Homo sapiens: one gene and its partners. The protein of the gene in region 6 interacts with the protein of the main gene of each other region in a biochemical or structural test. Each region holds a gene or a part of one and is shown on either strand. Other genes may lie near its edges.

What was found.
Region 1: the proteins of IL16 (region 6) and LPAR1 interact in a test that uses a peptide from one of them, tested with the Homo sapiens proteins (one large-scale study listed by IntAct).
Region 2: the proteins of IL16 (region 6) and ZNF599 interact in a test that uses a peptide from one of them, tested with the Homo sapiens proteins (one large-scale study listed by IntAct).
Region 3: the proteins of IL16 (region 6) and SLC2A7 interact in a test that uses a peptide from one of them, tested with the Homo sapiens proteins (one large-scale study listed by IntAct).
Region 4: the proteins of IL16 (region 6) and TRPM1 interact in a test that uses a peptide from one of them, tested with the Homo sapiens proteins (one large-scale study listed by IntAct).
Region 5: the proteins of IL16 (region 6) and RALBP1 interact in a test that uses a peptide from one of them, tested with the Homo sapiens proteins (one large-scale study listed by IntAct).
Region 7: the proteins of IL16 (region 6) and APPL1 interact in a test that uses a peptide from one of them, tested with the Homo sapiens proteins (one large-scale study listed by IntAct).

Annotation. Positions count from the first base shown.
Region 1 is NC_000009.12:110,937,471-110,940,970, forward strand, and holds part of LPAR1 (lysophosphatidic acid receptor 1), read right to left. Parts: exon of another isoform or gene 2,442-3,500; intron 1-2,441.
Region 2 is NC_000019.10:34,770,416-34,774,596, forward strand, and holds the start of ZNF599 (zinc finger protein 599), read right to left. Parts: upstream 2,801-4,181; 5' UTR 2,427-2,800; coding exon 2,409-2,426; intron 1-2,408. UniProt on the Homo sapiens protein: May be involved in transcriptional regulation.
Region 3 is NC_000001.11:9,012,924-9,016,423, forward strand, and holds part of SLC2A7 (solute carrier family 2, facilitated glucose transporter member 7), read right to left. Parts: intron 2,320-3,500; coding exon 2,194-2,319; intron 1,946-2,193; coding exon 1,758-1,945; intron 713-1,757; coding exon 602-712; intron 1-601. UniProt on the Homo sapiens protein: Probable sugar transporter. Even if its physiological substrate is subject to discussion, it is able to transport glucose and fructose. Does not transport galactose, 2-deoxy-d-glucose and xylose.
Region 4 is NC_000015.10:31,098,926-31,103,165, reverse strand, and holds the start of TRPM1 (transient receptor potential cation channel subfamily M member 1), read left to right. Parts: upstream 1-1,440; 5' UTR 1,441-1,509; intron 1,510-4,240.
Region 5 is NC_000018.10:9,478,513-9,482,012, reverse strand, and holds part of RALBP1 (ralA-binding protein 1), read right to left. Parts: exon of another isoform or gene 3,491-3,500; intron 1-3,490. UniProt on the Homo sapiens protein: Multifunctional protein that functions as a downstream effector of RALA and RALB. As a GTPase-activating protein/GAP can inactivate CDC42 and RAC1 by stimulating their GTPase activity.
Region 6 is NC_000015.10:81,311,879-81,314,558, reverse strand, and holds the end of IL16 (pro-interleukin-16), read right to left. Parts: 3' UTR 1,304-2,680; coding exon of another isoform or gene 1,156-1,303; 3' UTR 501-1,155; downstream 1-500. Other genes in the region: STARD5 (stAR-related lipid transfer protein 5), read left to right, coding at 1,156-1,303. UniProt on the Homo sapiens protein: Interleukin-16 stimulates a migratory response in CD4+ lymphocytes, monocytes, and eosinophils. Primes CD4+ T-cells for IL-2 and IL-15 responsiveness. Also induces T-lymphocyte expression of interleukin 2 receptor. Ligand for CD4.
Region 7 is NC_000003.12:57,230,729-57,234,228, reverse strand, and holds part of APPL1 (DCC-interacting protein 13-alpha), read right to left. Parts: exon of another isoform or gene 3,465-3,500; coding exon of another isoform or gene 3,462-3,464; intron 1-3,461. UniProt on the Homo sapiens protein: Multifunctional adapter protein that binds to various membrane receptors, nuclear factors and signaling proteins to regulate many processes, such as cell proliferation, immune response, endosomal trafficking and cell metabolism.

The DNA of each region.
Region 1 (3,500 bases), on a different chromosome or scaffold from region 6:
ACCTAACCTCTCCTTACCTCAGTTTTTATCAACTGGAAAATAAGGATAACAAATCAATAACAGTACCTATACGCCATAGGGTTGTAATTTACAAATACTAATTTCTAAGGTAGCACATGATTTATGCCAAATAAGTATTTCACAACTAAAAATAATTATTAAGATCCAGTACTCACTCAAAAGCAGCTTAATACAAGATCATGCTTAAAAACCAGCCATTGGTATTGCCCATTATTAATCTCAAAGATGACTTTATTTTAATATAACTTGACTCATAACAAGTCAGTTGCTGACCAACAAATTCTTCTTTTGATCATGAAGACTGAATAGGTCTAAAACCCAGGGATCATTTTGATGAAGTGAAAATGGAAACTGAGTAATCATTCCCAGAATAAATGGAAGTAAAACAAACATATTATTTACTGAGCACCCATTGTAGCCAGGAGTTTTCCAGGCTGTTGTATTTTAGAAGGCATAGAACATAAAGGTGTCGCTAGGTTTGGCTCCCACATAGCTGAATAAAGTGGCATTTACTGTAGTGAATTCACTACGGCTCTGGTCTTCAGTTTTGAAGGCAGAGAAACTTGGTTTTGTCATCACATGCATTCCCTCAGCATTTATTGACTACCTACTTTGTACCAGATAGCCGTGACAGGCAATGTGGCAACGTGGAGAAAACAAACAATCATTACAATCCTGCCTGCCCTCACAAACCTGGCAATCTGGCAGTGAAGACAAATACTAAAAACCAAATGTACACAAACTAAAGTAAAATAACCAGATTATCAATGGACTAATTTACAAAGAGAAGAACTTCGAGTAGACCAGAATTCTTGTTCCTACTGAAGTGGGAGACCAGCAGGACTTGTTTTCACAACGCTGCTGATCAAAACAGGATGTAGCAAAGAAACCAATCCAAACCAGCAAGGACCAGGAATCATAATACATTTGCATTAGACATTCCTACCAGCACCATGACGGTTTACAAATGCAATGGCAATGACTTGGAAGTTAACCTTACATGGTTTCAGGAACTCCCCACCCCTTTTCCAGGAAGTTCATGAATAACCTGTTTAATTATATTTAGCATTAAGAGTGGGGGCCCAGGCATGGTGGCTTATGCCTGCAATCCCAGCATTTTGGGAGGCCAAGGCAGGAAGATCACTGGAACCCAGAAGCTCAAGACCAGCCTGGGCAACATGACAAAACCCCATCTCTACAAAAAAAAAAGAAAAAAGAAAAAAAAAAATCTGGGTAGCTGGGTGTGGTGGTATGCACCTGTAATCTCAGCTAATTGAGAGGCTGAAGTGGGAGAACTGCTGGAGCCTAGGAGGTCCAGGCTACAATGAGCCAAGATCATGCCACTGCACTCCAGCCTGGGTGATACAGCAAGACCCTGTCTCAAAGAAAAAGAAAAAAGAATGGGTATAAATATAACTAGCCAGCAATCCATTAGTGCTGTTCTGTGCTACCCTGCCTATGAGATAGCCCTGCTCTGCCTTTGGAGTGGTCACTTGGCTGTACACTGTTACGCTAACAAACTTGCTTTCTTTCACTGTTGGTTCACTCTTGAATTCTTTCCTGGGCAGAGCCAAGAACTCCCCCAGGCTGAGCCCCAATTTTGGGGTTTGCCTACATTATGACAAGACCAACCCATGTCTCCCATGTAACCGTGCCTATCTAAGGATGGACACTTACAATTCAAATAGGGGAGCATACTGTAGGAATGGCATTAGGCACCACGCCTTGAAAAACATCTGTTAGGATTGTGACTTCCCCATTCTAAACTTTCCAACCACTCCCTGCCCACATCCTGCCCATTCTCTTATTCTTGCTACTTTTCTCAAAAAGGCTACGGTCCATTTAATTTCTGTTTCCTATATTACAATCTTATTCCCATCTTTCTTCACCAAATACCTTCACCTATCACCGTGACGGGGTTTTCCATGTTCTGAAAGTTCTTCCATCTCACAGCTTTAAAAATCATGCTCTTTATTCCAGAGATGTCAACTGCATTCGATCTTTGTGGAGTATACTAGTTTAAATATTATTTCTGTTATTTTAAAGTTAGTGGTTGTGCAGTGGTAGTAGTTGGGCATGGGAAAGTGGCATTTAGGGCAAATGTACACTGAAACACTAGCTCCTATAGCCTCAAAATGATTATTTCAACCTGAAAAACAACCCAAAGAGGCACAAAAGTATGTGAATCATTCAGTACATTGCACACTGGAATACACAAGATATTATACAAAGGTCAAAATTAAAACAAGAACTTGGCAGGTTAATAGTCCAAGTTCAGTAGTCATTTGCTGCTGGCAATTCTGCAAACTATGAGTAGCACTTGTCGTAATAGAAAAAGTTCATGCATATAAAAAATGTCAACCAACATTTAGGTCATCAGCAAATAAATATTTGAGTCAATACAGGAAAAAAGTCTCATGTTATTTAATGTCTCATGTTTTATTTCATACAAAAATAGCATCCATGGTAAACAAAGATGTGTTTTATCCACATCATGGAAAATGTGGCCTTGTGGCACAGGTGTGCTTAAGGTCCTGTTAATAAACATACAGAGAAACCATTTTTGTAGTTCTACTAATCTTCATTGGATGCAATAAGACAATCTCATATCTGAGGTGATGGGGTCCTCAGTGTTTCAGTTAGTTAGGCAGGGTTTTAGGTGTGTCAGTGATCCCAAGGCTTAGTTGCTATTCTCACAGGTCTACAAGAGGGTCAACAATGAGTATAGCTGAAAATGATGTCCATGATGCAGTCATCCTAACCAAAACAGACGAGACCTATGCATCAATCTGAATACTACTTTATATAATGATCAGCAGGACCCTGTCTCCTTCCAGTGGCTAAAATTAAGGTAATTCCCAGAGTTTCAGAGGAGCCACATAATCCCATGTTACATTCACCCAAAAATGCTATATAAATTGGAGCACAGAGAATTATAGGAACTTTCCATTGAATTTCTGTGGGGAAAGAGGAGGTGATAAAATGTTTTTTTTCAATTTCCATAGGGAAAGATGAAATGATAAAAGGTTTTCAAAAAAGATTTTTTAATGTGATCAAACGTTAACCTGAATATAGTCTATGGAGAATGTATAATTCCATTGGGTAATTATTTTAAAAAACTCTCACTCTACTCTCAGCTCCAAAGGAAATGTCTGTATCTGTCCTTTTCATGGAGCCAGCACAGAGCGTAGAACATAGTAGGTGCTCTTTAACTACCTTCTACACACATAAGTGAATATATTCTTCTTGATCACTACTATGAATTTTTCATCCAAGAAAAACAATGCTTATTTAAAAGCAGAAGGTATTTGAGTCTACAAATCTTGCTCTTCACCTTGAAATATGAATTAACCTCCACTACTACAAATAGAAAATTAATAGAAAATAAGGAAGTTTTCATGAAGATGACTGTCAGAGAATATCATTAATTCCAATCTGTTTTGTTCAGTAAATCTATATAAAACCTTGATATACTACCT
Region 2 (4,181 bases), on a different chromosome or scaffold from region 6:
ACTCCTGAAAATATTGCCAGAGGTATGGAAGGAAGAGCAGAGCCTTCCTTTGCCTCATAGAAGAGGCACCTGAAGAGGTGCCAACTGCCTAGGGCTTGGGAGAGCTCAAACAAAGTTTCCCTGCCCTCAGGCAGCTGGGACTTGTAGACTCCCTGGAATATCCCACAATGAGCGCCAACCTGTTCTTTTTCTTCCTGAGCCACGGTTAGCACATTTCCCTTAGGTACAGGTAACACAAGTGGCCAAGGGCAATGCAGGCTGTGGCTCTAAGAACCTGGCAGCTGCCTTAAGCACCACGTCTGTCCTGGGTGAGAATGGGATGTTGGCATGATGATCATCAGATGATCACACAAGACACGTCAGCAGGTGACAAGCCTTGGTGTCACTCTATGTCTCCTCATGCCTCTGCCTTTGTCCATGCAGTTCCCTTTGCCGGGAAGGTTCCCCAAAGACCCCTTCATTCCAATGTCCACCTGCTAGAGAGAGGCCTGCACCTTCCCCTTGCAAAGTGTACTTCAGCTGTCGCCCCCAGGGATCTCCAATCCACTGTGGGTGAAATATTGGTTAAAAATGTAAGCTTCTGGCTGGGCACGTCGGCTCATGCCAGTAAGTACTTTGAGAGGCCAAAGTGGGAAGACTGTTTGAGTTCAGGAGTTCGAGGCCAGCCTGGGCAACACAGTGAGCCCATCTCTACAAAAAATAAAAAAAATTAGCTGGGTGTGGTGGCACACACCGATAATCCTAGCTACTCAGGAGGCTCAGTGGGGAGGATTGCTAGTGAGCTGCGATGGGGCCACTGCACTCCAGTGTGAGCAACAGAGCTAGACCCTCTTTCAAAAAAAATAAATAAATAAAAAATGTAGGCTTTTATGCTCGACATACTGGATTGTTTCTGTTACTTATGAGCTATGCAACCTTGGGTAGTTAATCTGAGTCTCCGGTTCCTCTTCTGTAAAGAAAGGAAAATGAAAGAATTTTACTCTGAGAAGAAGGGCGTTAAATAAGGTAATACACAGAAACTGCCTCTCAGCACATTATCAATGCGCTCAGTGAAGACCAGCTACTATTTGTTGCTGTTAGTATTTTTCCTATTTGCTCCTGTCGCACCCTAGGAGAGCTCAATGCAGCACACATCCAGGAGCAGCCTTGCAGAGATCTGGCGACAATGTGACAGAGAAAATCGTCCAATGAGCTTGGCATGTGCAGGAGAGAAGAATGGCAGGGGGAGTGTCCTGGTGGATTGGGCAGTGACTTTGCAGCCATGGTGGGGTATGGGGTGGGGTTGGGTTAGATGAAATCTAAGTAGGATGGGAGCCCCAGAGGATAGAATCTCATTCATTAATCACTTATCGACTAAGTGGTACAGGCCCAGAACAGAATAGTTTTGGGCCTGGGGATGAAAAACAGAACAGAAGCTGACATTCTGGGGTTGGGGGACAGATCCTCAGCAATAAACAATCAAGATAAAGTCAGAAGACTCTAGAAAACAACACAAGAGTGAGAAGACCACAAAGACTGGGAGAGACTTTACATGATGCAACCAGGGAAGCTCTCTCTGAAGAGACCCTGGAACAAGGTTAGATTGAAGTTAGAGAACAGACCAGGTGAGGAAAAATGAATAGACAACTCCTGAAGGTGATCAGAGCTACGAGGAGTAAACAGTGTGACATGCTGGAGAGTAACTTGGGGCCTTATGTGCTCACACTCCAAGAGACATACATTCATGTACACTGTCATTAATGAATATTGTGCTGGATTTGCTTTTCAAATACAAGAGCATGTGTTAAACAGAAGCACGGATTCACTGCTGTTAGGCGGCAAGCCAGATTCATTTGTAATAAACAGACGGCATCTGCAAAGATAAATCCAATGAGCTTCTTGTCTTCTAGCCTCCTGCCAAAAATGCTGCTCCCGCCTCACCTCTTGCCCTCGAGGCTCTCATTCCCTCTCCCAGCTTTTGGTAGGGCCAGACTTCCGCTGGAATGATCCCCTAAAACAACAGCAGGACCTAGAGAGTCCTTCTTCAAAGACGGCACCTAGAGTGATGCTCTCCGAGCAGTGAAAGACAGGACCCACGTCACAAGCGTACCCTCTCCAGCTCCCTCCACAGAGAAAATTACTGAGACTCGCATTTTAGACCCGAGGGAATGGAGGCCGAGGGCAGCGAGGCGACAGCTCCAGGTTAGAGCCAGAGACAGGGACCTCTCCTTACAACTCCTGTCCTGGATTCAGGACCCTGGGTAGGAAGTGATTAGCCCTGCCCTCTCACCTCACCCTCTCCCGGGATCTCCATAACCTAGGGCATCAAAAGGGAGAAGCACAGAGTCCCGGCATCCGCCGTATTACAGCGGATGGGTGCATGCGGGCGGTGACCCGAGCTCGCGCGGGCTGCGGAACCCTCCACTCACCAACGCCGGCGCCGCCATGGGCCCAGGGGGCTGGGTGAGGCCGTGAGAGTCGGCGAGGAAGCCGGTCCTGCGGGCTCGGCCGACCCCGGGCTCCGGCTCTGGGCTGCGAGGGACCTCAGTCCCCGCCGTCGTGTAAAATGCACACAAGGTTCGCGGCGCCGCCTCTGCGCGCCGTGAGGACACAGGGCTGTCGCCAAGGCCCCAGGAAGGGTTTTGCAGACGCTTGTGGGGGTGGGATCGCGGCTGACATAAAAGCGTGTAAGTGGGTCCTATCCTCCTCACTGTCCGTCTCTACTCGGTCTCGAAAAGTGGCCCCTGTCTGGCGTTCTACCCAGTGTAGCGTTGGCAACCACAGCAGCCGCAACCTAACGGCGGACGAAGACTGGACGCCGGAAGTCCCGCCCACGCCGCTACGGGAACGCCCCTCTGCGCCTTCCGTCTATGGCTTGGGGTCGGCTTCCGTCCCTTGTAGCACTGCCTTCTGGGTAATGTAGTTTGACGGAATCCGGGTGGTACCTGGAGCGCACTTTCTGTTCTCGGTGAGGCGGCTTCTCAAGGCTCCCAAGAAAGGGATTGGCTTCACCTCTTCTTAAAGGAGAGGCACACAGAGTTCCGTGGAAATTATCTGAGGCAATGACCCACTCTCAAATGTCTCTACCAGGCAACTCACGCCTTGACTTTCCTCCCTGTGTATCCCTGCGCCAGCAGTTCATCTCTCTGAGCCTTGAGATGGAGATTCCTAAGGAAAATGAAGATAATTATTTAATATGATAATATTAAAATTTCCCCTATCAGTAATTTTCAGATGACATCAGCATTACCTGCGAATTTGTTACCAATGCAAGTTCTTAGTCCCCACCCACTGAATCAGGTACTCTGGGGGGTGGGACCCAGCCCTCTGCTTAACTTGTCCAGGAAAAGTGGATGCTGCAAAACATTTGAGAACCAGACTCTTTAAATTCCAGTAAATAAATGAGACAAAGCCACCTGTTTGGTGGGAAGTAACTAAGAATTGCTTAGCACTGGGCCTGGAACATACCGATAAGAACATAAGAGCTATTGCTGTCATTATTAATATTCTGTATTATTGGCAACATCATCACAATACACTGCTAGGGGAGGGTCTGAGATACTTCTTTGCAGACTCTGATATTTGTCAAAACAAATACGTTGACTGATTCAACAGGAGCCTCATGAATACTGTTTAAATTTTACATAATAATACGTTGCAGCATTTGGCGTATGCATCTTTTTAAAACGGTATATGCAGGAGGGTTTCCTAATATACAGGTAGACCTATTGCCCAAGGGATACTTTCTTACATGATTCAAAACTTAGGATCACTGAGACTAATTACCTGCAGCCCTAAGGGAAGAGTGGAGTTGACATGGTTTCTAGTTTGTGATGTAAGATGGCGTGTCACTGTTCATCTCTAATTCACAGCAACCAGGATCTGACCCCTCCCCATCTGCCCCTCCAGCCCCCAGGGAAGCCAGAACCAGGCACAAACCAGATGGCCCAGCTTATGCCCAGCAACTCAGGGTCACCAGATCTTGTCTCATCAAGACACTTTCAGCCCACCACCCAAACCTGTAGCCCACATGAAGAGGGCAATAATCCTGGACACTGTGAAAAGTAAAAGCATTACATCCAAAGAGGCATCCCCAGGATGGAGCAGAAATAAGAAAACATAATGAAGACACAATTTTGCAATCACTTCTGCCTATATTCCATGGCCTACAAACCACTCAAATAGCTCCACATGTAAGAGAA
Region 3 (3,500 bases), on a different chromosome or scaffold from region 6:
TGTCACCCAGGCTGGAGTGCAGTGGTGCCATCTCCCTGCTCACTGCAATCTCCACCTCCCAAGTTCAAGTGATTCTCCTGACTCGGCCTCCCAAGTAGCTGACATTACAGGTACCCACCACCATGCCCAGCTCATTTTTGTATTTTTTAATAGAGATGGGGTTTCACCATGTTGACCAGGCTGGTCTCAAACTCCTGACCTCAAGTCATCCACCTGCCTCAGTCTCCCAAAGTGCTGGGATTACAAGTGTGTGCCACCACACCTGGCTAATTTTTTTGTATTTTTAGTAGAGACTGGGTTTCATCATGTTGGCCAGGCTGGTCTCAAACTCCCTGACCTCAAGTGATCTGCTCGCCTTGGCCTTCCGAAGTGCTGGGATTACAAGTGTGAGCCGCCGCGCCCGGCCGGCTCTGAAGGAATTTTGAGTTTTCTGGTCAAAGTCATGCAGGTAGTTAGTATGTGTGCATCCTAAAGTCCATGTCCCTTAAATGACCCCAGGACCAGGGCCACCAGCACTCAGTTCACTCTGTGGGGCTCCTGTCTGCCTGGCGGCACCTGGCCAGAGACCCTCCAGCAGGAAGGATGCCTCCTGCTCACTCACCGAGGTGATGGTCATCACTATGTTGACGACGCCAGAGCCCACCGTTACATATTGGGAGTGAGCGGCCTCCACGCCCGCAGATGTGTAGATGGTGTCCGCATAGTAGTTGATCTAAACAAAAACACAGGGCTGTCAGGACAGGCCGGAAGACCCAGGACGCTGGCTTAACTTTCTCAACTCAAGCCACACACAGTTCTGCAAGCCTGGGTTGGGGACCCTGGGACAGGAAGAGGGTAGCAGGTGGTGGGAAAAAGAGGCCTGACCTGGAGTCGGGACACCAGGGTGGAGCCCGGCGCTGCCCTGGAATCCAGGGTCGCAGCTCCTCCCTCTCTGGGCCTCAGGTTTGGCGTCTATAAAATGGAAGTCAGACCATACGACCTCCAAGAGCACTTTTCCCTCCATCATTCAGTTACTCTAAGAGCTCAGATCCCAAAGAATGACTTCTTACCTCTCACTCTGGGCCAAGCCAACCGCAAGTTGAGTCTGTCTTCTGGCCCCATGCCAAGGACATTGGCACAAACAGCCCTTTGAAAGGCCACGTGTGCTATTCCACATCTGGTGGCTCCCACCTGGGCCATCTACCCTCCCACGATCACTGGTTAAACATCCATGAATCCCTGAGGCCAAGGCCACCTCTTCCCGACACGCCACTGGAGCAACTGGGTCACCCACCCAATCTCCAGTGTTTTAGCTTCTGTCAGATCTCCACCCTTCCCTCACACCATGGTTAGATACAGTTACAGCCAAAGAGCCACGGTCGCAGAAAGCGATGCCACAAACATCACAGACAAGTGGGCCCAAGATGGGCTCCTGACACAGGCTGGGCCTACCAACCCAGGCCTGGTGACCTGAGCTTGGACCCAGGAGACCTCAGCTCATCTCAGTCTAGCTGGTCTCTTGTATAGAAGGGAAAGGACTATTGGCAGGAGGCATTCCTTCTGGGGACTGGGAAACAGAGAAAAATGAAGCTGGCATGTGGGGAGAGGCAGAGCACGGAGGCAGAGAGGAGTGAGGTTTCTTCCTGACATCTGGCTCTGCCTGGACTGATCCTGGCCCCACTGCCAGGCCAGGCCTCTGTGGGTGGAACTGTGTGTTGCTATCCATGAAGCCTGGGTCTGCTTCATCTGTCTCCCTGCCTGGCCACCGTCCCACATACCGCATTGATGCCCGACAGCTGCTGGCCGGCCATGAGCACGATGATGGAGAGGAGCTGCCAGCGCAGGGACCGCAGGGCACAGAGGTGCAGCACAGACAGGTGGCCCTCGGCGCGCTCGGCCCGGGCCTCCGCACGCATGTCCTCCAGCTCGGCCTCCATGTCCGTGTGGCCTCTCAGCCTCCTCAGAGCTGCGGAAAGCAGAACCACCCGCTCAGAGGGCCGTCTCCCTGCAGGCTGGGCCCCAAGCCCCCATGCTGGCCCTGAGCTCACCATTCCCTGACCTGACCTTGGTTGTGCCCCAGTTGCCACCCCCCCACCCCGTTCAGCTCCCAGCTCTCACCCCTGACCCATGGCGACCCTGACTGTGGCCCTGACCGTGTCTCTGCCTGGCCCCCGGGGTGGGCAGGGCCTGGGAGAGTAGCCGGCGACTTCATACCTTGTCGCGCTGTGGCTTCATCTCCTTTCTGAATCAGGGAGTAGCGGGGGCTTTCGGGGAAGAAGGGCAGGGTCAGCAGCTGCAGCAGGGCGGGCACCCCTGTGAGCGCCAGAAGCACCGGCCAGCCTGCAAGGAGCCAAGGACTCAGGATCCCGGGGCCTGGGCACCCCCTGGCCCACCTACCACTGTGCTCGGAAGGTCACGCTCCTATGTGTGAACCAAGGACTGTGGGGACTTCATTCTCACCAGGGTACTCCTACAAATGGTTTCCACATTCAAAACGGAGGGAATCATGAGAGTTATACAAATTTACACGTCATTAATTATTTTGCAGGAAGAACACCGTTTCTCTAAAGAATAGGCAATGATTTAAACACTTGAACCCCGGAGAAAATGAGCTCAGTCTTGTTCCTACTTTTATAGCAGGAAAGGGGATAATCTCTGCCTCATTAGGGCCATGGTAGGGCAGGGCCTGGACCCTGCGCTGGGTCTGAGTGAGCTCCTTCTGGATGGCTTGGCCTAAGGAGGGGAACTGAGATTCCACTAAGAGAACAGGGTCTCCGTCTGCCTCCCACCCCTGCTGGTATGGTGGGAAGTGGACAAGTTCTTTTTTTTTTTTTTTTTTGAGACAGAGTCTAGCTCTATCAGCCAAGCCGAAGTGCAATGGTGCGATCATAGCCCACTGCAACCTCAATCTCCCAGGCTCATGTGATCCTCCCACCACAGCTTCCTGAGTGGCTGGAACTACACGCGTGCATTACCGCACCTGGCTCATTTTTTTTTTTTTAATTTTTAGTAGAGACAGAGTCTTGCTATGTTGCCCAGGCTGGTCGTGAACTCTTGGGCTCAAATGATCCTCCTGCCTTGGCCTCCCAAAATGCTGGGCATGAGCCACTGCACCCAGCTGACAAGTTCTTTAATGTCTCTGAGCCTCAGGCAAGAAGTGGCGAGGGCTGAATGAGGCACAGGTGCTAAGCGTCATGCACGGTGGATTCCCCAGCTGATGTCTCTCTAATTGACGATTTAATACTCAGCGGCTCTGGGAGTTTAGGAATCATTACTGTTAACGATCTTTCATGGAGCACCCTCCAGGTTCTGAGTCTCTGAACCTCTTCAGGGTACTGTGGGGACCACAAAGACATAAATCCACCCATTAAGGAATATGTGCAGAATTTGGGTCATTCAGAAATGTCTGTAAAAAACCCCGGCCGGGCATAGTGGCTCATGCCTGTAATCCCTTCACTTTGGGAGGCGGAGGCAGGAGGATTACTTGAGCCCAGGAGTTACAGATCAGCCTGGACAACATA
Region 4 (4,240 bases), about 50 Mb from region 6:
GGAGAGCCACTGACTGGCAGCCGGTCGGGCTGGCCATTGGTGCTGACCACAGAGCCTCCACACCTCCCAGCCATGGCAGTGCCGGCCATCAGCTCACTTCCCCATGTGGTCTTTCCCCACTGCTCCCAGACTGATTTCAGATGCCCCGGATTGCCCTGACTGTGCCTTCAGAATTCCGGCCACGTAGCACCCTCCCTCAGCCCCCGGAAGGGTTCCCGCTGAAGCCGTGACTCTCTCAGGCCTCAGGAGCCAACACCAGTTCAAGAAAGAAGACTCGGGAGCCAGGCCAGGGAGGCTGCTGCGGTCATTGTGCGCCCAGGGGCTGTGCGCGCTCCAGCAAAGCACGTGGGAGCCACTCACCAGACCCTTTGCACGCCCACTCTGCGGTGACAGACCCTGAGAGAAACGAATGAAAGCAAAGACAGACCCAGAAAATGGCCTGGCACATGTGCTTCCGTCAGAAGTTCAGAGATTCCCTGAGCCCCAGGCTGTCTGCCAGGCATTGGGTGGGGGAGTGAGCCCAGCCTCCAGCTTCAGGACTCTACATATGGGCAGAACTTGACAACCTGGGCACTCCCACTCCACCCCACCTGCTCTCTGGGCAAGCCACCCTCTCACATGACTCAGAGTCCTCATCTGTAAAATGGGAACACCCCTAATTGCCCTTACGTCCAATCTGTCTGCTCCTCTGTGAGAAGCGGGAGGCGGACAATGCCCAAGAGCCTCAGATGCTGGGGAAGACCCAGCCCCTCTGCAGAGAGGGATAGTTCAGGGTTTGGGTTTTTTCTTTCCTCCTGGGCTGAGAAAGCTCATGGAAAGCTGGAATAACCACGCATACTGTTACAGCAAATCCAACAGAGCTCCCACCGTGGTGGTTTTCAGGTGACTGTGGATGCCAAGCAGGCAAGCTCCTGGTGAAGGGGGGAGAGCAGGGATTAGAAGCACTCAGAAGGGGCTGAGAGTCATGTGGGGCTCACACTGCATTTGCAGCTGGGTTCACCCTGACCTCAGGCCCAACTTAGATGAGGAAGGATTAGCAGTAATTAGTGCCATGTGCCGCCTTCTCCCAGCTCCCCGGGGCACGAACACTGCCCAGCTGATGAGGGGATTCTGAAAGAACCATTATGTCCAATTGTCTCAATTATGCAAACCCTGCTGACATTTCCAGCCAGGGAAGGGCGGCTGGGTGGGAGGGGGCCATGGCGGGGCCACTTCAAAGGAAAAGCTCTAGCTCCCCTACCTCTCTCACATCCTAAGGCTGCCTTTGTGGGATTCCACACAGAACAGCCTGGAAGCTTGGGGCCCTGGCTTCCTTTTCTGGCCTGGGAGTCAGGTCATGGGGCCATCGCTTCACAGCAATCATGAGGGCCCAGGCCCAAGTGCTCACATGCTCCTCATGGGGACTGCTCCTCTTAAAGGGTGGGCCCTCCTCACCCAGCTCCCTGCCCTGGCCAAGGAGGAGGCTGAAAGAGCCTGAGCTGTGCCCTCTCCATTCCACTGCTGTGGCAGGTAAGCTCAGATGCGGGTAAGCACAGGTGAAGGGAGGTCAGGTGCAGGTATCCTCAGGTGTGGGTAAACTCAAGCGTGGACAAACTCAGGTGCAGATAACCACAGATGCAGTTAAGCTCAGGTGTTGGTAACCTCAGGTGCAGGTAGGCTCAGGTGCAAGTAAGAGCAGGTGCAGGCAAGCTCAGGTGTGCTTTCTGGGGCCTGTTACTCATCTCCTCTTGAGGCTGGCTGGACAGGACCCTATGGAGCAGCTGGTGAACCTGTGTTCAGCCTGGGTTCCAAGAGGCTGTCTCAGCAGAAGGGACCCACCAGGTTGATTCACAGAGGGGATAAGTACTCTGTCAGCTGGTCTCAAAGAGGCTGAAACCCTCTGAGCTTCCCTCAGGGCCAGCTTCTAAATCCAGGTGCCAGGGATCTGCTCAGGAGCCCCGGCTCCAGGCCTCAACCTCTTGCCTGTCATTCCTTAGCATCTTACTTTGCTTCAGGGAAAAGGTGCACCTTCCTTAGAACCCCAGAAAATGCTGAAGTTCTAGGAGAGACAGGGTTTATACTTGTAAGCCTTTATCAGCTGATATTTCACCTGTGAAAGCCTTGGGGAAGAGATTGGTTACACGGAACAGGATCAGGAGGGGAGATTACTGCTCCCTCTCACTGCTGGGAGCAGTGCAAACTGGTTTCTGGAAGGCAGTTCAACAACATGCAGCAAAGCCCTGCAAGTCCACACCTAGGAACCCATCCTGAGGAGCGAATCCTGAAGGGATGCCAACATTGACACAGCTTTGTGTGCTACCGGGAAGCACAGCAAACAACCCAAACGCCCAGAAGCAGAGGGCTGGACACATCAATCATGGTCTGTCCATAGGATGAAACATCACGCAGTCACTTTTAAAATGACAGAGAAAAAGGCATAATAACCGTACAGAATTATTGTGTTTTTCATTACACACACATGCACCTGTCTAATCTATTCACGGAAAAAGCCTAGAAATACAAGGAAATATCAGTTGTTTTAGGATGGAGGCCTTATGGGTGGTGTTTATTTATTCTTTTGTACATTTCTACATTTTTTGTCTTCTTTAATCATTTTCTATCACAAATTAATTTTCCTTTTTTTCCCAGAAAATATATCTTTTGTACTTTTTATTAGTACATCATAGTTGTGCATATTGTGGGGGTACATGTGATTTTTTGGTGCATGTATACAATGTGTATGTTTTTTTAAACCTTAGCAAAAATTAGCAAAAGTAGTGGGGGAGGTAGGGAGGAATGAAAATATTTGCAGGGCCAGGCGCGATGGCTCATGGCTGTAATCCCAGCACTTCGGGAGGCTGAGGCAGGCAGATCACGAGGTCAAGAGATAGAGACCATCCTAGCCAACATGGTGAAACCCTGTCTCTACTAAAAATACAAAAATTAGCTGGGCATGGTAGTGCGCGCCTGTAGTCCCAGCTACTCGAGAGGCTGAGGCAGGAGAGGTTGAACCCAGGAGGTGGAGGTTGCAGTGAGCCGAGACTGCGCCACTGCACTCCAGCCTGGGCGACAGAGTGAGACTCCATCAAAAAAAAAAAAAGAAGGAAAGAAAGAAAGAAGAAAGAAACAAAGAAAGAATATTTGCATAAATTGTGTTTGCGTTGACAAGGGATAGGAACTGAGAATGGGGAAGGAAGATGAGACACATTTTCTCTGTCTGAATCAGATATTTAGGGAGGAATTAAGAACGGAGCCCTGCCTCTCTATGAGTGCACTTGATGAATACGGGACTGATTCTGGGAAAGACTGCCTTTGGTCAGGTTCTCAAAACACCATTGTTTTGAACTATCCAGCAGCAGTTTTAATTCATGGCATTTGCAATTATATTTATAGCATAAATTGTCTATTCTCTGCAGTGTATTTTTTAGCCCTCCTCCCCCAGAAAATGTAATTGGAAATATCAACTCATGTTGAATGTGTTTGCTGTACCTGTTTATGTTTTATTGATTATTTTCTGGGAGAAGTTTGGAGTTGTGTTTGGTTTGGCTCTGTGCAACCTCATTTATTTGCTCTGTAAAGCTGATAAGCACAAGAAGTGAAATGACACTCAGGCATTTTAAGATGCGAGTCATCTTCATTCTGAACTAAGTGAAAACAAAACAGATTTTCTATCAACCTAAAATCCTCCTACTGGGGGCAGTAGATGTTTTTAGAAAATTGGCTTTGGCTTTGATTGACAATGTTTGGAAGATGTCCTATAATTTGAGAGTGTATGTGTGTGTGTCTGGGTGTGTGTGTGTAAATGCTGGACCTGGGAAGATGGAAGCCCTCAGCCAGGAGAATAAGAGGACACAATACCCCCAAGCCTTCCATGACCTAGAGATTAAGGGGATTTAACGTCTTAAAACCTCCATTAAGTAGACAGTAGCAAGAGACATGTTGCCCTCAGTGATATGCAAAGGCATATCTGATGGGTCAGTATCTGCCATCCTCCTCTTTTGCAAGCTCTGAGGTTAGACTCAGCCATGGGTGAAGGAATTACAGCATCCATTGGGAGCAGGCAGAGTCCAGGAAAGAGATTTTTCTGTTACCTCAGATGCCCATCGCGCCAGGAGCAATTTTCCCAGCCTCTTGTAGAAAGCACATATTAGTATCTATCTCACTGCTTTTCAGAAACTGTATCTTCAATTGCTAAGTGGGGAAAAATGCATTTACAATGCTAGAGCTGACTTTAAGAAAACAAGTTAACATCAGGCCACAG
Region 5 (3,500 bases), on a different chromosome or scaffold from region 6:
TACAATATGGATGAACCCTGAAAACATTAAGTGAGGGAAAGCAGTTGCAAAAGATGATATATATGGTTTCATTTATATGAAATATCCAGAATATCTGAAATATCAAGAGATACAGAAGTAGATTAATGAGGGCAGGGGAAATAGTGAGTGACTACTGCTAATGGGGAGGTTTTTTTGGGGGAGTAATGAAAATGTTCTAAAATTGACTGTGGTGATGGCTGTACAACTCTGTATATACAGACTGTCCCCAACATACAATGTTTCAACTTGGGATTTTTCAACTTTACATGGTATCCATAAAATCATTCTGTTTTTCACTTTCAGTATGCAATAAATTACATGAGATATTCCACACTTTATTATAAAATAAACTTTGTGTTAGAGGATTTTGTAGGCTAATGTAAGTGTTCTGAGCATGTTTACAGTAGGCGAGGCTAAGCTATGATGTTAGGTGCATTAAATGCATTTTCCACTTACAATATTTTCGAATTGCTATAGGTTTATCAGGATGTAACTGTGTCGTAAGTAGAGAAAAGTAGAGAAGCATCTGTACTAAAAACCAATGAGACTGCGCGTGGTGGCTCATTGAGCCCAGCACTTTGGGAAGCCGAGAGAGGTGGATCACTTGAGCCCAGGAGTTTGAGACCAGCCTGGGCAATATGGCAAAACCCCGTCTCCACAAAAAAAATACAAAAAATTAGCCAGGCATAGTGGCACACACCCGTAGTCTCAGCTACTCAGGAGGCTGAAGTCGGAGGATCATCTATCTGAGCCTGGGAAGTCAAGCTGCAATAAGCTGTGGCTGCACCACTGCACTCCAGCATGGGTGACAGAGTGTGACTCTGTCTCAAAAAAAAAAAAAAAAAATTAAGTCACACAGACCAATGAATAACTACATGCTACATACCAATGAATTGTATAATTTAAAGGAGTGAATTTTATGGATACGTGAATTATATTTCAATAAAGCTGTTTTAAAAAAGAAAAGCAGGTTCAAGTCTTTGCCATGTTAAAAATCTGTTAACCCTTTATCACCCTCTGCTACCACCTCTTTCTATTCTCCCCTTCATGGCTAAAATTGATTTATTTATTATAATCTACATATGCTTTTCCACTCTCTAACCTCAACTCCTCAACTCAATGAAACCTACCTCGTCCCCCAACCATTCTATCAAAACTGTTCTCACACAGTTATCAAATTGAATAACCTCCTCAATACCAAATCAATAGACTCTTAATAACTTCTTTCGCTCAACTTTTCAAAGCATTTAAAGTATGGCTTTCCTTTTGTTTAGGCCAGGGTCCCACTCTGTCACCCATGCTGCAATGCAGTGGCACAATCACAGCTCACTGCAGCCGCAACCTCCCAGGATCAAGCGATCATCCCACCTCAGCCTCCTGAGTAGCTGGGACCACAGGTGTGCACCACCACAGCCAGCTAATTGCTTTTTTTTTGCAGAGACACCAGTCTCCCTATGTTTCCCAGGCTGGTCTCAAACTCTTTGGCTCAAGCAATCCTCCCACCTCAGCTTCCCAAAGTGCTGGGAGGACAGGTGTGAGCCACTGTGCCTGAGGCTTTCCTTTTTTAAAAAAAAAAATTAATTTCTATTTTTTCTTGAGAGTTGATTGTGAAGTATAACTTCCTTTAAAAATGATCCCAGCCCAATGCAGTGGCTCACACCTGTAATCCTAGCACTTGAGAGGCCAAGGCAGGCAGATCGCTTGAGCCCAGGAGTTCAAGACCAGCCTGGGCAACATGGCAAAACCCCATCCCTACCAAAAATACAAAAATTAGCCAGGTGTGGTGGTATGTGTCTGCAGTCCCAGCTACTTGAGTGGCTGAGGTAGGAGGATGGCTTGAGCCCAGGAGGCGGAGGTTGTAGTGAGCTGTGATGGTGCCAGATCCCACTTTGGCTTCTATGACATTTTCTCATGATTTCTCTACATCTCCAAACACTTAGGAATTTCCTTTCCCAGCTCTTCTTCTATCTGGCTTTAAATGTTCTCCACAGCCTATTTCCAGAACTATTTTATGTTAACAAACTCTTCTTATTTGGTGTTATCTAAATCAAAGAATTCAGATACCACTCATAATATAGCCTGTTATACTGTACTCCAAATCCACATTCACAGTTCCATAGCAGATGATTCCACCTGGATGTTTCACAGATAACTTCCACTCAATATGTTCTGAAGCTAAAATACTGTTTCTCCTCAAATGTGCTTCTCTTCCTGAATTCCCCATCTCAGTATATTTTACCATTGTCTCTTCAATCACCCAAGTTAAAATCCAAGTCATCTTATTCTATTATTTTTCCCTCACTCCCCATATCCAATTGTTGCTGAATCCTATGAATTCTACTTTCTAAATATTTCTATTACCCTCCTCCTCCATAACCCCTCTAACATTGCCTTAGTTTGGACCCTTATTTCTCACTTCGATTAGTGCAAAAACCTCCTAAACAGTCTTTCTACATCCATTCTTACCTTCTCTCCATCCCTTCTGAAATCCTTACTCTACAATTCCAGAATGATCTTTCTAAAATAAAAATCTTGGCCGGACATGGTGGCTTACACGTGTAATCCCAGCACTTTAGGAGGCCGAGGAGGGTGGACTGCCTGAGCTCAAAGTTTAAGACCAGCCTGGGCAACACAGCAAAACTCCATCTCTACAAAAAAAAAAATACCAAAAAATTAGCCAGGTGTGGTGGCGTTCACCTGTGGTCCCAGCTACTCGTGAGGCTGAGGTGGGAGGATCGCTGGAGCCTGGGAGGTCGAGGCTGCAGTGAGCCATGACGGAGTGCGGTGAGTGCCACTTCATTTCAGCCTGGGTGACACAGTGAGACCTTATCTCAAAAAAGTAAAAAAAAAATAAAAAGAAAAATCTTATCATGTCTCTCTGTTCATTAAAATACATAAACCCTATTGTTATCTACAGGAAAAAATGGTAAGGTCCTTGGAATGGCACGCAATACTTTTGAGGATACCTGCAACCTCATCTTCTGCTACTTATCACCACAACTAATGCTACAGCTACAGAAAACAACTTCCCATTCTCTTCCATATTCTGTGCTGACTGCACCCCTGGCCCGCGCGTGCCTTTCCGCCTGCCGCGCCCCAGGACACCCCAGCTCTGGGCGCCACCAGGGAGCTGCTCGCCCTGACCAAGGCCGGCGGCAAACCCTTCTGCGCCTGAGGCAGGCTGGCCTCTAGCTCGGTAGGAAACCCGCGCTCAGGCGGACAGCGCCGACTCTTTTTACTGAGTTTCCAGAGGAAGACTAGCCCAGCTACCGCGAAGCTGCCAATCCACCGGAGAGGGGGCTTCTGAACCCGGACTCCTGGGAACGTCGACAAGCACGGCACTACTACACCGAGGCCTCCACCGCCTGGGCCTGAGCACGGCCGGGCCATTCCCAAACTCGGGACGCAGGAGAGGATCTCGGAGAAGAAGAGGCCACCCTGAAGCACACAGTTTACGTCAAAAGTTTACATGGAGAAGG
Region 6 (2,680 bases):
CCTGCATGATGTCAGGAAACATCTGATGGGCAGGCATAGTGCTACCTGGGGTTCCTGGTGAGGCTGAGTGGACAGTTGCATTCAAGTAAAATGCCAAATGCACACCACAAAGCCTATACCACCTTTGTTGTCCTGGCCGTTGAGAAGTTTGTCACAGTGAAGATCGCTTCCTGTCCCTACCAAGTTGTGTTCCATCTCCACATCGTGTGCCCCTTTGATTCTGGACTTCCAGTCAGCATCTGTGCCACCTGCCGTCCTCTGAGCTTCTGCCACCCCTTGGCCAAAATCCCTTCATAGGTGCTCAAATTATTCGCCAGTTCTCTAAATAGCAGTTCTCAAAATTTTGGCATAAGGCATTATTATACCCTTACATATATTTGAGGGCTTCATAGGGCCTTTGTTCTTGGGGGTTATAGCTATCATTATTTGATGTATTTGAAATTGTAACTGGTAAATTTGAGAAATGTTAAAAATATTTTAACATAAAAATGCACTGCATGTTAACATAGATAACATTTTTATTTTAAAAAACTATTTTTTTAAAACAAAAAATACTGTGAAAAGAGTGGCATTGTTTTTATATTTTTGCCCATCTCTTTCATGCCAGGCTTAACAGAAACTCATACCTGCTTGTGCGTGTAGTCTGTTGCAATATCACATATCATGTAACCTCCGGAAAACCCCACTGTATGCATGTGAGAGAAGGCGAATCACATGTTCGTGTTGTTATAAAAATAGTGTTAACTTTGTAGACCCCTTGAAAGGGTCCCAGGAGCCCCCAGGAGGTTGCAGACCCTAAATAGTGAAGGGCAGCATCTCTTCGTTCCTCTCAGGGCCTGGCACAAAGTGAGTTCTCTGAAAGCATTTGCTGAGTGAATCGGGCAGCAGGGTACTGGGTTTTTGGGCTGGGAGTAGGGACTTCTTCCTCCCTGGAGGCCGGGAGAGGCTGTGGAATGCATCCCCGACAGGATGGGTTTCCATCCTGAAAATCAGCAGGTCCAGAGAGGACTCCTGGGTGGAGGGCACAGCAAGGGATGAGACGCGATCACTGTATCATGGCCATTTCCACTGGGCTGGGCTCTGCTCACCTGCCTGGCGCTCGTCCCCAGCACCTCTGCTGCAGATCATAACACAGCTCTGCTGTTGCCTTCACAGGGAACCCACCAAGACCAACCTGGTCACATTCTTCCATACCGACCTCAGCGGTTACCTCCCACAGAACGTGGTGGACTCCTTCTTCCCCCGCAGCATGACCCGGTTTTATGCCAACCTTCAGAAAGCAGTGAAGCAATTCCATGAGTAATGCTATCGTTACTTCTTGGCAAAGAACTCCCGTGACTCATCGAGGAGCTCCAGCTGTTGGGACACCAAGGAGCCTGGGAGCACGCAGAGGCCTGTGTTCACTCTTTGGAACAAGCTGATGGACTGCGCATCTCTGAGAATGCCAACCAGAGGCGGCAGCCCACCCTTCCTGCCTCCTGCCCCACTCAGGGTTGGCGTGTGATGAGCCATTCATGTGTTCCAAACTCCATCTGCCTGTTACCCAAACACGCCTCTCCTGGCAGGGTAGACCCAGGCCTCTAACCATCTGACAGAGACTCGGCCTGGACACCATGCGATGCACTCTGGCACCAAGGCTTTATGTGCCCATCACTCTCAGAGACCACGTTTCCCTGACTGTCATAGAGAATCATCATCGCCACTGAAAACCAGGCCCTGTTGCCTTTTAAGCATGTACCGCTCCCTCAGTCCTGTGCTGCAGCCCCCCAAATATATTTTTCTGATATAGACCTTGTATATGGCTTTAATGCCGCAAAATATTTATTTTTCCTTAAAAAAGGTGTCAACTTGGAAATAATGGTTTAAAAACAGGATAAGCATTAAGGAAAAACACTTTCAATGTGTCTTCCATTTGATGAATTTGTTTTTCTCTCTTTATCCCCGCAAGGTGGAGTTTCATGTCCTCGGTGAAACCAGACAGTGTGAATCTGTTCCAGCCCAAATCTGCAGCATTAGGGATGAGTTCTCAGAAGTGATTCTGAACTGAGCACGCACTCATGTCTGCATGGGGAACTCTGGGGAGAAGAGCCTTCCTTTTCTTTCCCTTGGGCATTTGCCTTTCCTTGTCGTCTTACTGAGGCGGAGGCAGGAGGTCTCTGTCTTCCAGGCCCTGGCCAGGCCATCCTGCCATCAGGAAAGATGGAAGAGTAGGCCTCCGTCTAGCAGCCCTGGCTGGAAATCCCCCCTCTAGATCCTGCTGCAAGACTGTACAAACTCACAGGGGCCATGTCCACCCAGGCACATCATCAGAACCAGGGAGCACAGCCTTGCCACCTAGAAGGGGCCTCAGCAGCCGTGCAACTTTCTTTCCCTATCTCCAATCCAGAGAGGGATCCTCTAACATTCTCTAGCAACCTCATCTGCACCCCCACCACCTTCCTTGTAAGAAAGACCACGTGTGACTAAAATCCCTTCACGCTGCATTTACCCAGGTTACTATTGTGCGCGCAAAATGTTTTCACAGTGTTCTCAGCCTTTGCTCCTCCAAACAGAAAACGTTTCCCCTGCGTTACTGTTACTTCCCTATTTTTGAGTCCTGGGGTGACTGTCTCTTAAATGTGCCAAGATGTGAGCAAGCTTTAAAACATGACAGCTCAGTGTTAAGGAGACAGAAAGCTTC
Region 7 (3,500 bases), on a different chromosome or scaffold from region 6:
ATTACATCCCAAAGGCCCAGGGGAAGAATGAAAATACCAATAACTACTGGAGATAACTGCAGCTTAAAATCTAAAAGATATATTTTTATTCTAAAAATAATTTATGCCTCAGCCTTAGAAACTGTTGTGGGTGTCGCTGTTGTTGTTTGAGATAGGGTCTCATTCTTCTCCCAGGCTGGAGCAGTAACATGATCTCGGCTCACTGCAGCCTTGACCTCCTGAGCTCAAAAAATCCTCCCACCTCAGCCTCCCAGGTAGCTGGGACTACAGGCATGTGCCACCATGTCTGGCTACTTTTTTTCTATTTTTTGTAGTGACAGGGTCTCACTATGCTGCTCAGGCTGGTTTCAAACACCTGGGCTCAAGCAATTCTCCTACCTCAGCCTCCCAAAGTGCTGGGATTACAGGTCAGGTGTGAGCCACCACACATGGCCAAAAATTTTTTTTTCTTAAATCAACTTATTCCTTAGCTTCCTATTTTCAGAGGAGGAAGCTAAGTCAATATAGTATAAAGAAGGGGAAAGGACACAAAATCATGATGCCAGTAAGTCCCTATTTTCAGTCCTCCACTTCCCCAGGCCTCAGAGATTTAGATTTGACAGAATATTTTTCAAACACTCCACTACAATTCCATATAGTGCTATTTTAAGATGTAAAAAAGAAAGCATCAGGAAATCTTGTTTGGCTAGTGCCATTCTTAAAAAAAATCTGCCGCTTCGTTTCTGTTTTGTTTTTTTTTTTTCTAAAAATGGGTAATTCCAATTCAAGGAGTTACATATTTATGTAAAAACTTGTAGCATAATTAAATTTAAAAGCTCTTCTTAGCGCAAAGCAAGTTGAAACAGATTCCCTATTTTAAGCTAACAATATCAACTTCAACACTGGATAATTGCTGTTTGTTTAAAGTTAGTAGCTTAAAAAATAGAATCAATATGGTACCATTTCATCAAATCTACGATGGTATCCATTGTAAGATGCATCATTTTCATTTTTGTACTACTCAAACAAAACAATGCTGGCAATTAAGCTATGATTTAAGGTTTTCTTATGTCTTGAATTTTTTACCTTATATTTATGAAAACAGACCTTCACACAGAATTTTATCATATACAGCTCTCATGTAAACATAACAAATATAAGCATCATAAATTTATTTCTAAAACTTCACAGAGTTCGAATCTTATGAACCACTTTTCTTTTTTGTTTTTTTGTTTTTTGGTTTTTTTTGAGTCAGAGTCTCACTGTGTCGCCCAGGCTGGAGTGCAGTGGTGTGATCCTGGCTCACTGCACGCTCCGCCTCCCGGATTCATGCCATTCTCCTGCCTCAGCCTCCCGTGTAGCTGGGACTACAGGTGCCAGCCACCACACCCAGCTAATTTTTTGTATTTTTAGTAGAGACGGGGTTTCATCGTGTTAGCCAGGATGGTCTCGATCTCCTGACCTTGTGATCTGCCCGCCTCGGCCTCCCAAAGTGCTGGGATTACAGGCGTGAGCCACCGCACCGGGCCCATGAACCACTTTTCAACTCGAGAGTCATCAATATGCATGTTTTCCTATACATTATCATTCTCTGTGCCATGAGGAGGTAAGTATTTCTTAGAAGTACTCCATTTTTGTCCCTAATATTTTCTTCCAAGAAACTGATACTCATTCAGCAAATTTTGATGATGTCATTTGACATCTCACCAGGTGTCAAAAGAAGGTTTTCGGACAACAACCAGGACTGATATTCCTTTCTCAAATGGTGGCAAAATTGATCTGTTAGTTGAACACTGAGAGACTACACTTGGCCAGTATGCTACTAGGAGAAACAACCAAGTATGTACATTTGCAGGCAATGTGAAATACATTACTACTGCTACCTGGCTGATAGCAATTGTTAATATACCATCAACTCTAAGAGGAATCCCAATCAGAGACATCAAAATGTTGGGAGGAAAGGCACATCTCATGATTAATTCATATTATGCAAAAACAGAAGATCCCATTTGGGACTGGGGTTTGTCTTCACTGTTCTATCATAGATGAATCACTAAGATACATATCTACATATAAAATCAATTAATTTTCTAAAGATCATTATCTGTTCTTAGTAATTAACAAGGTTTATTTTGATTTTGATTTTCAAAACAACATATAAATATGGACAAGGCATCTACTATAAGCTTAAGATTTTCTGGCTCAATGGATGATCTTTTGCAGAACTGTCTGGTTTGGGCAAGGTAATTCCAAACATGCTTTTTCCCCACCTAGGTTCCAGGCAGTATTCTTAAAAGATGCTTGTTTGATCAGCTGGATTTTGGACTTGCAAATTCTCCCTAATTTAATACGTAGTTACTATAAATCAAAACTAAAAGAAGGGTAACTGTAATTCAGGATAGTCTTCCATCACTCCCAGGCTCTTTTTTTTTTTTTTTTTAAGAGCCAAAGCCTCGTTCTGTTACCCAGGCTGGAGTGCAGTGGTGTGATCATAGCTCACTGCAGCCACAGACTCCTGGACTCAATCGATCCTCCTGCCCTAGCCTCCTGAATAGCTGGGACTACAGGTGCATGCCACCACGCCCAGCTAATTTTATTTTTTGTAGAGATGAGGTCTTGCTATTTGGCCCAGGGTGGTCTTGAACCCCCACCCTCAAGTGTTTACAAGCATGAGCCACTGTGCCAGGCCAAGGCTCTTTTTTAGGTAGCAACTGGCAGGCCACTTTTGATTAGATCTAAATGATCTAAAAAAAATTAAAAACTAATCAAACAAAAAACTTTTAGGGCCTGGTACAGTGGCTCACATCTGTAATCCCAGCACTAAGGCCAGGAGTTCAAGACTAGCCTGGCCAACATAGTGAAAACCTGTCTTTACAAAAAAAAAATTTTCTTTTTTTTTTTTTTTTTTTTTGAGACGGAGTCTCGCACGGTTGCCCGGGCTGGAGTGCAACGGTACAATTTCGGCTCACTGCAACCCCCGCCTCCCGGGTTCAAGTGATTCTCCTGCCTCAGCTTCCCGAGTAGCTGGGATTACAGACGTCCACCACCACGCCCGGCTAATTTTTTGTATTTTTAGGAGAGACGGGGTTTCACTATGTTGGCCAGGTCGGTCTCAAACTCCTGACCTCGTGATTCACCTGCCTCGTCCTCCCAAAGTGCTGAGATTACAGGCATGAGCCACCACGCCCAGTCTTCTACAAAAAATTTTTAGATTAGTTGGGCTACTTGGGAGGCTGAGGAAGCAGAATCACTTGAACCCGGGAGGTGGAGGTTGCAGTGAGCCAAGATCATGCCACTGCACTCTAGCCTAGGCGACAAGAGCGAAACTCCATCTCCAAAAAATAAAAATAAAATAAAATAAAATTAGCTGAGCTTGGTGGCGTGTGCCCAGGAGTTTGAGGTTTCAGAGCTATGGCTGTGCCACTGCAATCCAACCTACGTGACAGTGAGACTCTGTCTCAAAAAAAAAACAAAAAACTTACCATGAGCTTTAAAAGTCTTCATATTCTTTGCTGCTCTGC